Homo sapiens: one gene and its partner. The protein of the gene in region 1 interacts with the protein of each later gene in a biochemical or structural test. Each region holds a gene or a part of one and is shown in the gene's direction. Other genes may lie near its edges.

Region 1 (7,036 bases):
AGGCGTGGTGGCGCATGCCTGTAATCCCAGATACTTGGGAGGCTGAGGCAGGAGAATTGCTTGAACCTGGGAGGCAGAGGTTGCAGTGCGCCGAGATCACGCCACTGCACTCCAGCCTGGGTGACAGAGCGAGACTCTGTCTCAAAAAATAAAAAAAAAAACAGCCTTACCTGGAAAAACTCAGCAGATGAAAGTGAACACGTGATCATTCACCTATCATCTCTCTGTTGTGACATGACTATTCTGGTGATGAATAGAATTGAAATCAGAACTCTGTTTCTCAGGGAGGATTAGCACACACTGAGTTTCTGAAAAACAAATGGGCAATAAGGACTATGTAAGAAGTCATCACGTCATTCTATTACATGGTATATAATTAAGCATTTTTTTTTTAATCTGGCAAAGTGACTGTATTTACCATTGCCACCTGGTGCTCTGTTCGTGCCGTGACTAAGCTATGTAAAATTTACCCTTTGAAAGCATTCTTTAGATTATTTTACTTATAAAACCAAGTGTATAGAAATTTTTTTTGACAAAAGAAGAATGGTTTTTGCATTAAAAAGAGAAAAACATTCAGGAAAACTAGTTTGCTAGATTGCAGTTTTAAATTTTTCTTTGATTGAAGATTAAGATGGCACACTTCTAAATTTGATATGTCTTTTTTAGAGTAAGGCAACTGGTATCTTTCAAATTCTTACGTGGGCACATTTTTTCCATTTGATGTATCTTCAGTTTTATACAGGGAAACAGTACCACCAGGTCTGTATCTAACCCTGGCATTGGAAGGAGTGATGGGAATGCTTGGCAAAGAGAAGGCACATTTAATGCTGAAGGGAGGAGTGAATAATGATACCCATGACAGCCAGGGCTAGTTTGCAAAGCCTGAAAGATATTCCAGCTCTTAGCATATGCCATCTCTGTGGGGAATGGACTTGGCTCTCTCTCTGGAAAGATGATCTGGGATCATTTCTGTTGTCATGGAAATTTATTATAATAGTTTACTGTTATTACTCATGTGTTTTGGCCATAACCCTATTCTAAATCTGGTGCCATTCTTGAATATACTTATATGATAGAATGCTTATCATTCATTTCAGCTTAAGAACATCTTCTGTGCTGTATTTCTCCTTCCATGTGCATTTCTTTCAGGACAGGGACTTTTGTATGCATCTTTATACCTTTAAGAGTAGAAATAAGAAAAAGATAATGTCTTCCACAGAAGCAATTTGATTGATTGATAGATTGAGAGAGTGTCTCCCTCTGTTGCCCAGGCTGGAGTACAGTGGCGCCATCATAGCTTACTGCAGCCTCCAACTCCTGGGCTTAAGCGATCTTCCCGCTCCAGCTTCCTGAGTAGCTAGACTACACACGAGTACCGCCATGCCTGGCTAATTTTAAGAAAATATATTTCTGTAGAGACGAGGTCTTCCTGTGTTGCTCAGGGTGGTCTTGATGTCCTGACCTCAGGAGATCCTCCCACCTTGGCCTCCCAAAGTGTTGGGATTACAGGTGTGAGCCATGGCAACCTGGGCTTCCTTAGGAGTAATTTTTTTTTTTTTTTTTGAGACATGGTCTGGCTCTGTTGTCCAGGCTGGAGCGCAGTGGCACCATCTTGGCTCACTGCAACCTCCACCTCCTGGGCTCAAGTGATCCTCCCACCTCAGCCTCCTGAATAGCTGGGACTACAGGCATGTGCCATCATGCCTGGCTAATTTTTTGTAGCAATGGGGTTTCACCATGTTTCCCAGGCTGTTCTCAAACTCCTGAGCTCAAGCAATCCACCCGCCTCAGCCTCCCAAAGTGCTGGGATTACAGGCATGAGCCACTGTGCCCACCCCGGATTAATTTTAAAATTAAAACTTTTAGTATTTATAAGCCAGAAGGGGAAAAATAAAACAAAATCATGGTCCTCAAGTTGCAACATAGGAAGAGTGATTGGGAAGGGGGTGTGAAGTGTTCGAAGTGTAAGGATCGATGAAACTAATCGGTAGGTCTACTCCATGGTATCGACATGCCTTTGTGATCACAGTGTGCCACATTTTCATCTTCTACAGTATAGAAATCATACATCCCCTCTCATCAAGAGCCTAGTCTCTTGATCTTTCTCCTTCTTTAAAAAATTAAATTATTAAAGGAACAGCTGTCATAGTTTAAAAAGTAAATTAGAACTATAGGACTTAAATGAAAAGGCAGTCTCTGCTCCACTTGATTTCTCCTTACCAGAGGTGGCCACTTTAAATGATATCAGCTATTTCTTTTAGCAGATAACATGCTCATGCCATTTTACTTGATATTATTTTCTCAATTTTAGACTTTATTTATTTTCTACCCAGAGGGTGAAGGTTTAGCTCTCTTCTGTCCTTTGCCAATCCCTGACACTATACCCTCCCAAAAACTTCCCTTTCCCCATCTTCCCAATGTAATTACATAACATCTGGGGTTGAATTAATCTTCATCATTTATATTTACTATTTAAATGTGCACAGTTGACCCATTATGATATATTATGTTTACATTTTCTCTTTTTCTACTTAGGTTTTTTCTTAGGATACTACCTGCCTTTTTGTGGTTTATTTAGTTTATAATTAGCTGACCAGTTCAGCCTCAATAGAGCCGTAGAACTCATTTTAGTAAATGGACCGCACTAGGTAATCTATCTAGTCCTTCTGCTCTCCCTCCCCACCCACCTCTCCCTCTTCTCCATGCTCTCTGCAATAAAAATTCTAATCTGAATGTTACTCTCTAGTGTAGCTTTACAGTCATCATTCTGGGATTTTCACTTTACTATCATTACGAGAATTCTCTTTGTCACTTGTTATTAGACCACATATCTTTTTTCTTTTTCATTTTCCTCCTGGTAGCTTTTTGAGAAAGGGCACATGAGAGGTAAATTTTTTCAGAACTTGTATGTCTGAAAATGTCTTTATCCTAGCCCCTGCCTACTTGTTTTAGCTGGATATAGGATTCTAGGATGGAATTTCTCCAAACATGGAAGTTACATCGATTATTTTCTAGCATCTATTGTTGCTATTGAGAATTCACTTGACATTTTGATTCCTGATCCTTTTAATGTGATTTTTTTTTCCCTCCCTGGAAGCTTTTAGATTCTCCTTTTTTCCACACAGTGTTCTTAGTTCATGATGCTGTGTTGAAGGTCATGGCCAGGCCTTTGCTAGGCTGATGGTGCAGTAAGAAATAAAATGAGAAGGGCTGTCGTCACTGCGCAGGAGCCTGGAGTTGCATTATAGGGTTGTAGGTGGACCGTGCAGTGTTGATGGGGCCCTTCTCCCAGCCTAATGTTGGAAAGTCAGTGTGCCAGTGCTTCTTCCCTTGGCCCTTCTCACGTGCAGGTTTCTTACTCTGTAGGCTGTGTTCACCTGCAAACTTCAGATGCTCATGTTATGAAGAACTAGGGAAGCAGTAGGAACCTACATCCATTCCATTGTGTCCTCAGCTTTAGACATATATCCTCTGCATGGATAAATAATTTTGCCAGGTAAAATTTTATCATGTTAGTTCTACACTATGTAATAGAATGACATGGTGGCTTCTTACGTAATCCTTGTTGCCCATTTATTCTTTGGAAACTCAGTGTGTGCTAATCCTTCCTGAGGAATAGAGTTCTAGTTTCAGTTCCATTCAACACCTGAATAGTCATGTCATGACAGATAGGTAGATGATAGACAGATGTTCCCTTGTTCATTTTAATCTGCTGAGTTTTTTCAGGCAAAGTTTTTACAATCAGTACTGGTACTAAACTCTAAGGCTGTTTATATTGGTGTGGGCAGGGTTAAGGGAAACAAACTTGATGTGGTGCAATCCCCCAGGGCTGGCAACAGAAACTGGTACTTTAGCAGTCCTGGGCATGAAGAGGTAAGGAGAGGGAGAAATTACCATAAACTGTTGAGATTGGCCTTGTGGGAGAAGTCTGCTAATCAGAGCTATGGCTTTGGTGAAGAGCCATAGTCAACAAATGACAGTCTGACAGGGAGGAAGACAGCAAAATACATGCCCAGCCTTCACCATCCCACCTTCCAGTCTGCCAGTGTCTGCCAATGGGGTTTAACCCACCTGGAAGCCAGACAGCAAGGGCATCCTTTGATGTCTTCCATAAAGGTCGTCCTCCTGGAGCGCAGAGCAGGGTGGAAGATGGTGAGGAGGTGAGTGGTGAATCACCAGCTTAGTTAGGTTTAAAGATGTTTTTGGAACCTAGGGTTATTATTTTTTGTTAAGAAGGAATGTGCAATTGGAAGGGCTAAGTGTGACGCTCATGGACAGATCCCGCCTTTCAGGGAGTTGATCATCTTTTACTCAGATATTAGAAGTTAGTTTGCAAGTAACTAACTTTTATGTTTTCTTTAGAATGTTAACGTCTACCAATCTTAGTGTGTGTTGCTAACCCTGCCCATATTCTCCCTTCTATTCACTGTAATTCCCTATGACTTGCTAATGAATACCGTATTTTTTTCTGCATATCTGTCAGCTTTTATAGCAGTCTTATGCAGCATCTCAGTGATTTCATATTTATTCTACATTCTTCTCATTTCTGTTCAAGATGAATATATACTCATTGCCTGGTACAGAGTGATTGTAATAATTTCTCCCTCTTGAGGGAAGGCTCTTAGTAGTTGCTTTTCTCTGCAGCCTCTTTTACTCAGAGCTGTTAACTTTGTTTTGATGAGGATGTCCTGCTTTTAATGATGGGTATTTTTGTTTTTAGGTAAGTGACAGTTTGCTCTTTGATACATCAGATGATGAAGAGCTGAGAGAACAGCTGGATATGCACTCAATCATCGTCTCCTGTGTTAATGATGAACCCCTCTTCACGGCAGACCAGGTATAGAGGAGATCCTCAGCAACGCAAGGAAAGGAGACTCTAGAGCTGAAAAACGGCTTCTTGTTATGACAGTAAATGATGGCTGTTGGTTTACTTATCTTTCCTATTTTTTTCTGGTTATACAGGCTTAATAGTTAACTCTTCCACAGAGAAAAATAAGTATTTGTGATCTGAAGCAGAAGGGATTATGTTAGTTGGGAAGGTTTCCAACAGAGGCCTTGTTGAAGATTATAGCAAGGTACCAAGGAAAGGTTGTTGCTTAACCCCAAACCAGAAAAATATTGTGAATTTCCTTGTTTCTTTAGATTTACCCAAACACGGACAAACTGTAAAGTATCTGTGTAGAAATTATTTAGTATCTTCAAAACCCTGGGTAAAAAGCATTAGCATGTATTAAAGTAACATATTGTGTGCCCCAGAAAGAAGTGAGCATTATTCCCGTGGAATGCGCTAATAAGGTCAACCCTGTATTCACTTAAAACCAGTCGAATCAGCTTTCTCATTTTCTGAATACTCTTCCCACCTCTGTTGTATTGTTGAAATGTGATGCCAGAACTTCTTCCTGAAATAAAATGTTCCATGGCTACTCGGACTGTGAGTTCTACCACACTCTATTTTTAGGCTGGAAAGATGAGATCAGTAAGGAGATACATTATGGCAAGCTTGGGAGGAGTACATTAAAAATTTACATTAAAATTGTGTTATTTGGATCCTCCTTAGTCATATTTGTGGTTGAATTGTTCTAGGCGTGGGAAGAATGTGGTGCTTAAAAAAGCAAGGTAATAGTAGGTTGGAAGGTTGTTTTGAGGTAGAGGGTAATCTAGGGATAGACATGACCTTGAGAATTCATTGTCCCCTCACTGACCTGCCTAATACCGTAAACTCTCCCTTTTTTTAAGAGTTAGAATAACAGATTCTGTAGGATCCTTGAGTGGCTCATTGTACCTTATTATATTTCCTGTTTTGGAGACTCTTCTTATAATTAACATAATCCCATCTCCTTCAGATTTGCCTTTGTTTTTCCTTGGTGGAAATCTTACCTGTTAAGCTTGTTAATTCATAAAGCATGGAAATATGCTCATGATGTCTTACTCCTTCATTTAATTGTGTTTAATTTTTTTTTTTAACTTTAGGTCCTTTTTTCTAACTATTGAGTAATTTTCCTGGGTTTCCTTTACATTTTCGCTGAGTTCTATATCCTTCTCAACTTTTAGAATCTGGAAAAGGGCAAGATACTGTTGTAAGATTTGAGCAGCACTGCACTAGACAGTAGATCATTGTTTAAAGTCAAATGTATTTCTGAAGTTTTTCTGCTTTTCACAGCATTTTTCTCTTTGGACTTCTACTTTTTGAGTAATTTAAAAAATCCCTTTTTTTCGTTGAATTAATATATAAAATTATTTTTCTGCTGTTGAAAGAATATTTTGCTGTCATAGAGGTAATTTCCCATTTATATATACTTTTTTTGTGCTATTGTATTTTATAAATTTTATGTCAGAATTTTTGATGAGATACCTTTAAATTGAGCACTTGTATGTCTATGGTAAATTTTCTGTTATTTGCTTTCTTCTAACGATTACTGTATGATCTAGCTCTGGTGTGTCTGAAGTAAATTATTATGTGTTTGTAGCACGATTACCTAGACTTTGCAAGACATGTTAGGGCCTTCTGAATCATGATGGACGTAGTAAATCCAATTCTATTTAGGTTTGTGTTTAGTATATTGTAATTTTTTCTTGATAAACCATGTTCACTCCTACAGTAAAAATTTTGATTATTTGGAGCATCCACACCTGAACACCATTGGTTAATGGAGAATTCAGTGCATTTCTGCTCTGGGTGCCTTAGGTGAGCACTGTGTTCCAGATAGATCATTTTCCTTTTGTATATTTGATTAACAGTGGTGTGTGTGTTTTCGAAGGTTATTGAAGAAATTGAAGAAATGATGCAGGAATCACCGGACCCAGAAGATGATGAAACCCCTACACAGTCAGATCGGCTTTCAATGCTTTCCCAGGAAATTCAAACTCTCAAGAGGTCTAGTACCGGCAGTTATGAAGAGAGTAAGGGAGCCTGCTGAAATCAATGATTTCTGTGCTTTTTGTCTGTATCAAATGTATAGTATGATCATCTCCAGAAAGCTTTGATTTCATCCTCCTTCTGTTTGTGTTTGTGTCCAAATTTACATTTTTGTTGTTG
Region 2 (7,036 bases), on another chromosome or scaffold:
CATATATGAGTAACTGTAAGCATATATACTTATGTATTTCCTTTTACTAAACAAATGATAGCATGCCATATTTATTATTCTGATCCCTAAAAATCTAACAGTGTATTAAGAAATTATATCAGTTTAAAAGTTGCTGTGTTGACTGTATGTGAATGATTACATTTTGCTCTATTAGAAACAGTGCTGCAGAGGATAACTTTGTAGATACTTTGTTTTCCTACATTTGGAAATATTTGTAGGGTAAATTGCTAGAAATTGAATCACTACATCAAAGTTTCTGTCCCCTTATAATTTTGGTAGATGTTGCCAAATTATTTTCCTTAGTGCTTGTACCAATTTATAGTCCCACCATATTGTTTCCTGCTATTCCCCCACAGTACAGTACAATAATCAACTGTGAATTTTGCCATTCTAATTGATGAAACATGCCGTCTCTTGTGCTTTTTTAAAAAAATTGTGGTTAAATATACATAACATAAAACTTACCCCTTGTATTTTAAAATTGTATTTCTTCTTCTTTTTTTTTTTTTTTTTTGAGAAGGAGTCTCGCTCTGTCACCCAGGCTGGAGTGGAGTGGTGTGATCTCAGCTCACTGCAACCTCTGCCTCCCAGGTTCAAGCGATTCTCCTGTCTCAGCCTCCCGAGTAGCTGGGATTACAGGCCTGCACCACCACACCCAGCTAATTTTTTGTATTCTTAGTAGAGACAGTGGTCTTACCATGTTGGTCAGCCTGACATCAAACTCCTGACCTCAAGTGATCCGCCTGCCTCGGCCTCCCAAAGTGCTGGGATTACAAGTGTGAGCCACCATGCCCGGCCAAAATTGTATATCGTTTTACAGGAGATTGGGTATCGTGGCACATTTTAACATAATTTGTATTCATTCTCAGTGTTAACGTTTAACTTCATATCCTTTGTCCACTTTTCTTTTGGATTGTTGTGTTTTTTGGTCTTATAAATATGTACGAGTTTTTTATTTGTTAGAAAAATGAGATCGTTGTAATAGCTAAAATATTGGTCTAGTCATATTAATCCCTCAAGGTTTTTTGATTTTGTGTTGTGCTTCAGCTAACCACTCTAAGACAGAAGTCATTCTCCCATGTTTTATTTTATTACTATTATGCTTTTATTTCTTACATTTCAGTATTTTAGCATCTAGAATTTAGGTTGGTGTAAAATGAGGGAATAAATTAACTTTTTTTCCCCACATGGCTACCCAGTTGTCTCACTGCTGGCTTTGAACTTTTTATTTCAAAATTCATCTTTTTTCCTACTGATTTGAAATGTCACTATGATTATTAACCAAGTTTTAAAAGTTTTTTGATTTCTGGACTTCCTGTGATTTGCCTATTTCATAATTATTGTAGCTTTGTAATGTGTTTTGATATTAAGCCAAACAAATTTTCCTTCATTGCTCTTCTTTTTCAATATTTCTCTGGCTGTTCTTCTTCTTCTTTGTGTGTGTGTGTGTGTGTGTGTATGTGTGTGTGTGTCTGAACTTTAAAATCAGCCTGTCTAATCACCCCCAGCCCCAAAGCTTATGTTTTTATTAGGACAGCATTAACTGTAGAGATTAGGAATGAAAATCTTTATGATATTAAGTCTTCCTATACATTTCTTTCTCCACCCCCACCCCCATCCCGGTGTGTGTTGTTGTTTTTTAATATTTTTCTCTCAGTTTTTTTGTTGAATATTTTCTATTGGTTCATTTTATAGGCTAGTAATCCTGCCTTCTGCTGTGTCCTGTCTGCCGTAAATCCATGAATGAGTTCTTAATTTCAGATATTTTATATTGTAGTTTTAGAATGTCCACTTTTTAGAAATAAATTTTGAGGCCAGGCGCGGTGGCTCACACCTGTCATCCCAGCACTTTGGGAGGCTGAGGCGGGCGGATCACAAGGTCAGGAGATCGAGACCATCCTGGCTAACACGGTGAAACCCCATCTCTACTAAATATACAAAAAAATTAGCCGGGCGTGGTGGCAGGCGCCTGTAGTCCCAGCTACTTGGGAGGCTGAGGCAGAAGAATGGCGTGAACCTGGGAGGTGGAGCTTGCAGTGAGCCAAGACTGCGCCACTGCACTCCAGCCTGGGCAACAGTGCGAGACTCTGTCTCAAAAAAAAATTAAAAATTAAAAAAAAATTTTAATTCTTTGTTGAAATTCTCCATCTTTTAAAAAATCTGTTTTATCCATCTTTTTATCTTGTTTTCTTAGACATATTAATTAATCATGGTTACTTTCAAGTCCTCTATTAGTAACTTCATGTTTGAGTCATTTGTGAGTCTATATCTGTTTTTGTTTAATGTGCATCATTATTTTTTGATGGGATACTAGACATTGTGAATGAAAAGTCTTAGAGACTCTGAAACATGTATCTTGTAAAAATTGTTAGTTTTGTTTTGGCAGTCTGATGAAGTATCAGTGAATAACTTTGATTTTATCCATGGTTGCTTTTAGGCTTTGTTAGGATGAGACTGTTTCAGTCCTCCTCCATGTATGCACAGTTTAGGAACAGAATAACAGGAGCAGAACTTACTGTAGATTTTTGGACTCCTTCTATTATTTTTCCTCTTCAGGATTTTGGTAGCCCTGAACTCTGACCGCTTTCTCTCCTCAGCAAGACTGCTGCTTTATACTTGAGCTCCATTGTACTGTAGCACAGTTTGGAAACTCTCTTCAGGGAAAAGGCTGGGATGAATGTAGAACCCACTAGTATGTTTCCACCTTTCGGTGATTATAGCCCCTCAATGCATTGCTGTTTCTTTATATATTTTGTTCAGGTTTTAAGTTGTTTTGGAAGGTGAGGTGATCTGATACTAAGAACACCATCATGGTTGAAAGAGAGTCTCACGATTTATTATGTAGACTTTCACTTAATCTCCTAGATCATAGATGGGATTTCCATTCTTAGTTGTGCCTGGTGTACCCAATCTAGAGATATCTGTGGTCTTCTTTCAAGATGGGAGAGGAGTACTTATCTGACTGGGAGAGGTGGAGGAGGCAAACTAAGTGTCTGACACTTCTTACACAAGCTCTTCACCAATCCTGTTTGAGTCCTAATATTATCCTCACTCTTAGATGCCCCAGTACTTCCAATTATTGAGCTAGTTTGTGGTGGGAATTGACTTGTTTCTGACTTATTTCCCACTGCTGGCTTAAGGTACAGCTTTTCTCTATTCTCCTAAGTCAGTTGCTGCATGTTCTTTTGTGTTTGCCAGCTTCTAGAACTGTATTGCTGTTGCCTTCTCTTCTGTTTTGCCTTTTTGGTAATCCCTTTAAAGTCATGTTCCTCAGGTTTGGACAAGTAGTAGAGGTAAATATGTACGGGTCAATCTAGTATGCTTAACTGTAGATTACAGTTTATTTATTTTTACTTTTTAAATAATTAGGCTAAAGAAATTAGTATGACTTCTTTTAATTTTTTGATGGAATGGCTTTCCCCATCACTCTTACTCTTTGTGGCTAAGAGTACAATTCTAAACAGTGTTGACATTATATATTTTCTGACTTTTTAATTTTCTTCTCCTTGAGTCATAGACTAGTCGACTTGGCAAGGTCTATAAAATGGCATTAGGTTTAAATCTTTCGTGTTTCTAGATAAAGAAACTGAAGTCCACAAAAGGCAGATGGTTAGCGTTTGATTATGTAGCTAGTCTTGTCTCTTGATTCTGAATTCATTGCTTTATTAGGTGACATAACTCTTTGGAAAGCTCAAATATCAAAAAAGTCTCTGATTTTTTCCTTGTTGCTTATCTTCAGGATCAGCTATGTATTATAGAGATTGAATTGATATAATTATTAGAGACCTTAAGAACACTATAGAGTGAGTAAAGTTGGTATTGTGATTTTCATTTGATGTTGGAAACTGAATGGTAGAAAAGGCAAACATTAATTTGAGTTTATTACAATACTGAAGTAAACAGGATTCGTATGTTCCTTCAGTTATAAGTTATGATTTTGTATGTGGAAGCCTATAGTACAATTTGTTATTGTTTTCTATTTCATTTGGTATGAAAAATTTTATGGAATTATAATTCAGTTGAGAAGTCTCACAACTAGGAAGTAGCTCAGTTAAATATATTGTAAGATGCTGAAAGTAATCTATTTTTTCATGTTTTCCCTTTTACTTCCTTTATTGTACACTGACATTACAAAAAAGGAGAGTTTGTCTGTTTTCCTGAAAGTCATCTACCACAAGTCTTTTGTTGTTCAGAAAAGTGTCTGCATTTGACATATTTGATGGCAATTAGAGTCATCTTTCTTTACTAACAGGATCAGTAGGTCTGCTTTATAGAGTTAGAACCACAATGTTCAGTAATGTTGTTGGCAGTAGAATGCAACACTGGGGACTTTTGGAGCTTCTGTCTTATTAGTGTGGTCCCTAGAAAGGAATTGGCAACTTAATTTTAAGGAATGGCCAAATTGACTAATTTTGTTTCCCTCTCTTGGCAGAAAGTCGCAGAATAATGATGATTGTGAAGTAATCTCATTATATGGCTATTATTTAATTTAATTTTTGAAATTTAGATTACTAAGATGAGTTTATCTTGATTTTTTTTTGTAAGTAGCATAGTAATGTAATATATTAAACATTCATGTTCTGGAAAAATCATTAAATTGTGGCTGGTGCCCAGATAGCCATTATATTGTGCCAGTTAACACAACTTGGGCTTGAAAATATATTTGGAACAACTTTTCTTCTTTAACTCACTGATGCTAAAATGCTATAATAATGGTTTATTTCTTGTTTCTCTTAAAGTTGCTAAAGGCAATCTTGTTTTCTAAGGTAGAGAAAGGCTCTTTCTCACAAAATTTCATGAGTCATACTTATCTCATCAGTGCTACCACAGGCTGAGTTCTGGCCTGTGGTCTGGTCTTGTAGGCACAGCATATGATGTTTGTCATTTAAGGAGATTGGATCATTTTTAGAGGCAAAATAAAGTTAAAAACAAATTTGGCACTGATGGATGAGATAAGAACATGGATTTTTTAATTTACAATGAGAAATATGGTAAACTGCCACAGAAATTTAAAAAGAGTTTCACGACAAACTTATTTTCTCCTAGAAAGGAATCACACATTGGAAGCCTGCTATGAATGGAAATAAAAAAGAGCAAGCTAGGTGAATTAAATGTTTATTAGTTTCAGATTAGCATAGTAAATTCATGTATGTCTACAATAAGGGTGATATTGCCAATAGGTTGTACACATTATTGCTCTTATGACTCTTTCTCACACTTTTTTCAGCTTTCACTAGCTAGCTTATTGTATTCTGGCTTCTCCTGAAACTACCACTCTTTTGAAATTACTATTCCTAAAGATACTAATGACCTTAATCAATTGTTTTGGTATGGTAAGGGTTTAAGTGTGATACTAAAAGTAGAAATATAAAGAAAAGATTAATACATTTGTTTATATCAAAATAATCTTTTATACTTAAAGGCAACTAGGATATAAGGGAAAATAATTTATGACAGATAAGGACTTCATTACATAAGGAGTTTTTACAAATTAAAGACCAACTCAGTATAAAATGATTAAAGAACATGGATGAATAGTTCAAAAGAGAAAAAATAGAAATGTTCAATAAATGTGGCCGCTCATGGTGGCTCACACCTCTAATCTCAGCACTTTGGGAGGCCAAGGCGGGCAGATCACCTGAGGTCAGGAGTTCAAGACCAGCCAACATGGCGAAACCCCGTCTCTACTAAAAATACAAAAATTAGCTGTGTGTGGTGGCACACACCTGTAATCCTAGCTACTTGGGAGGCTGAGGCAGGGGAATCGCTGGAACCTGGAAGGTGGAGATTGCAGTGAGCCGAGATCGTGTGACTGCACTCCATCCTGGGCTTCAGAGTGAGACTGTCTTAAAAAAAAAAAAAAAAAAATGTTCAATAAATGTGGAAGAATTTTTCAAATTCACTGGTAAGCAAAAGAAATCAAAATAAAAACGAAACACCATTTTCCCCATTAGACGTATGGAGTAACAACAATAACAAATAGTGACACAGTGTTCATATGTGCCAAGTACTGTTTTCAGTACATTCTTACATTAACTAATTCTTCCAACACTTCTGTAAATATGTACTATGGTTATTCACATTTTACATGTGACCAAACTGAGCACATAGAGATAAGTAACTTGCCTAAGTTTACATAACAAATAAGTGATAAAGCTAAGATTTAAACTTTTTAGTGTTCTTTAACTACTACCCTTTATTGCTTCTCAAAGATTTTAATAAATAACAACCAGTGTTTTGTTGTTATAAATGACATTACAGTAAACATCTCCCTAAATACAAGAAATAATAATAACCAGTGTTAATGAGGGTACCTAGTAGCAGGCACTACTGGCTAAATACGTATTAGTAGACAGTTCTGTTAAGACACTTAATATGTTTGAAAGCCATACTGTAACATGGGCATATTCTTTGAATTCAGAATTTATCCTAAGGAAATCCTTACAATAAGCACATTAAAATATGTGTACAAAAACTATCCAAAATTGTTCTATACTAGCAAACATTTTAAACGAATGTTGAATAAGAGGGGATTAGTTAAATAACTTCAAGAAATAGTGTATTATTAGGTTTTCATTCTTTTTGGAGAAAATAAAGTAATGCTACTAATTAATTCATGTAAGTTTGCCTTTCTCTCCATACATTAAGTATATGCAGTATTTGGCTTTCCAAAGCATTCTTATAAAATTGAAATATCACATTTTTTTCTCTTTTTTGGATGTAATTAGGTTGTACTAGTAAAGTATATAAAGTGTAACTTTTAGTGAATATATTAAATATCCTTTTTTAAAATGTTAGCAAATCACTAAAGAATTAGAATTTGAATTAAACATTAAAATTGTTATGAAGTTATAATGTTTTATCTCATGTTATAAATGCTTTATCTTTTTTGTTAGTTTTTTAAATGTCTAGCATATCTGTAAAGATGCCTTAGAAAAAGAATCATGGAGAAGTATGTTAGACTACAGAAGATTGGAGAAGGTTCATTTGGAAAAGCCATTCTTGTTAAATCTAC

The links. The genes of interacting proteins can lie anywhere in the genome.
Region 2: the proteins of FEZ2 (region 1) and NEK1 form a complex in vitro, tested with the Homo sapiens proteins (one study listed by BioGRID).

The regions. Positions count from the first base shown.
Region 1 is NC_000002.12:36,581,154-36,588,189, reverse strand, and holds part of FEZ2 (fasciculation and elongation protein zeta-2), read left to right. Parts: intron 1-4,720; coding exon 4,721-4,837; intron 4,838-6,758; coding exon 6,759-6,900; intron 6,901-7,036. UniProt on the Homo sapiens protein: Involved in axonal outgrowth and fasciculation.
Region 2 is NC_000004.12:169,602,560-169,609,595, reverse strand, and holds part of NEK1 (serine/threonine-protein kinase Nek1), read left to right. Parts: intron 1-6,917; 5' UTR 6,918-6,965; coding exon 6,966-7,036. UniProt on the Homo sapiens protein: Phosphorylates serines and threonines, but also appears to possess tyrosine kinase activity. Involved in DNA damage checkpoint control and for proper DNA damage repair.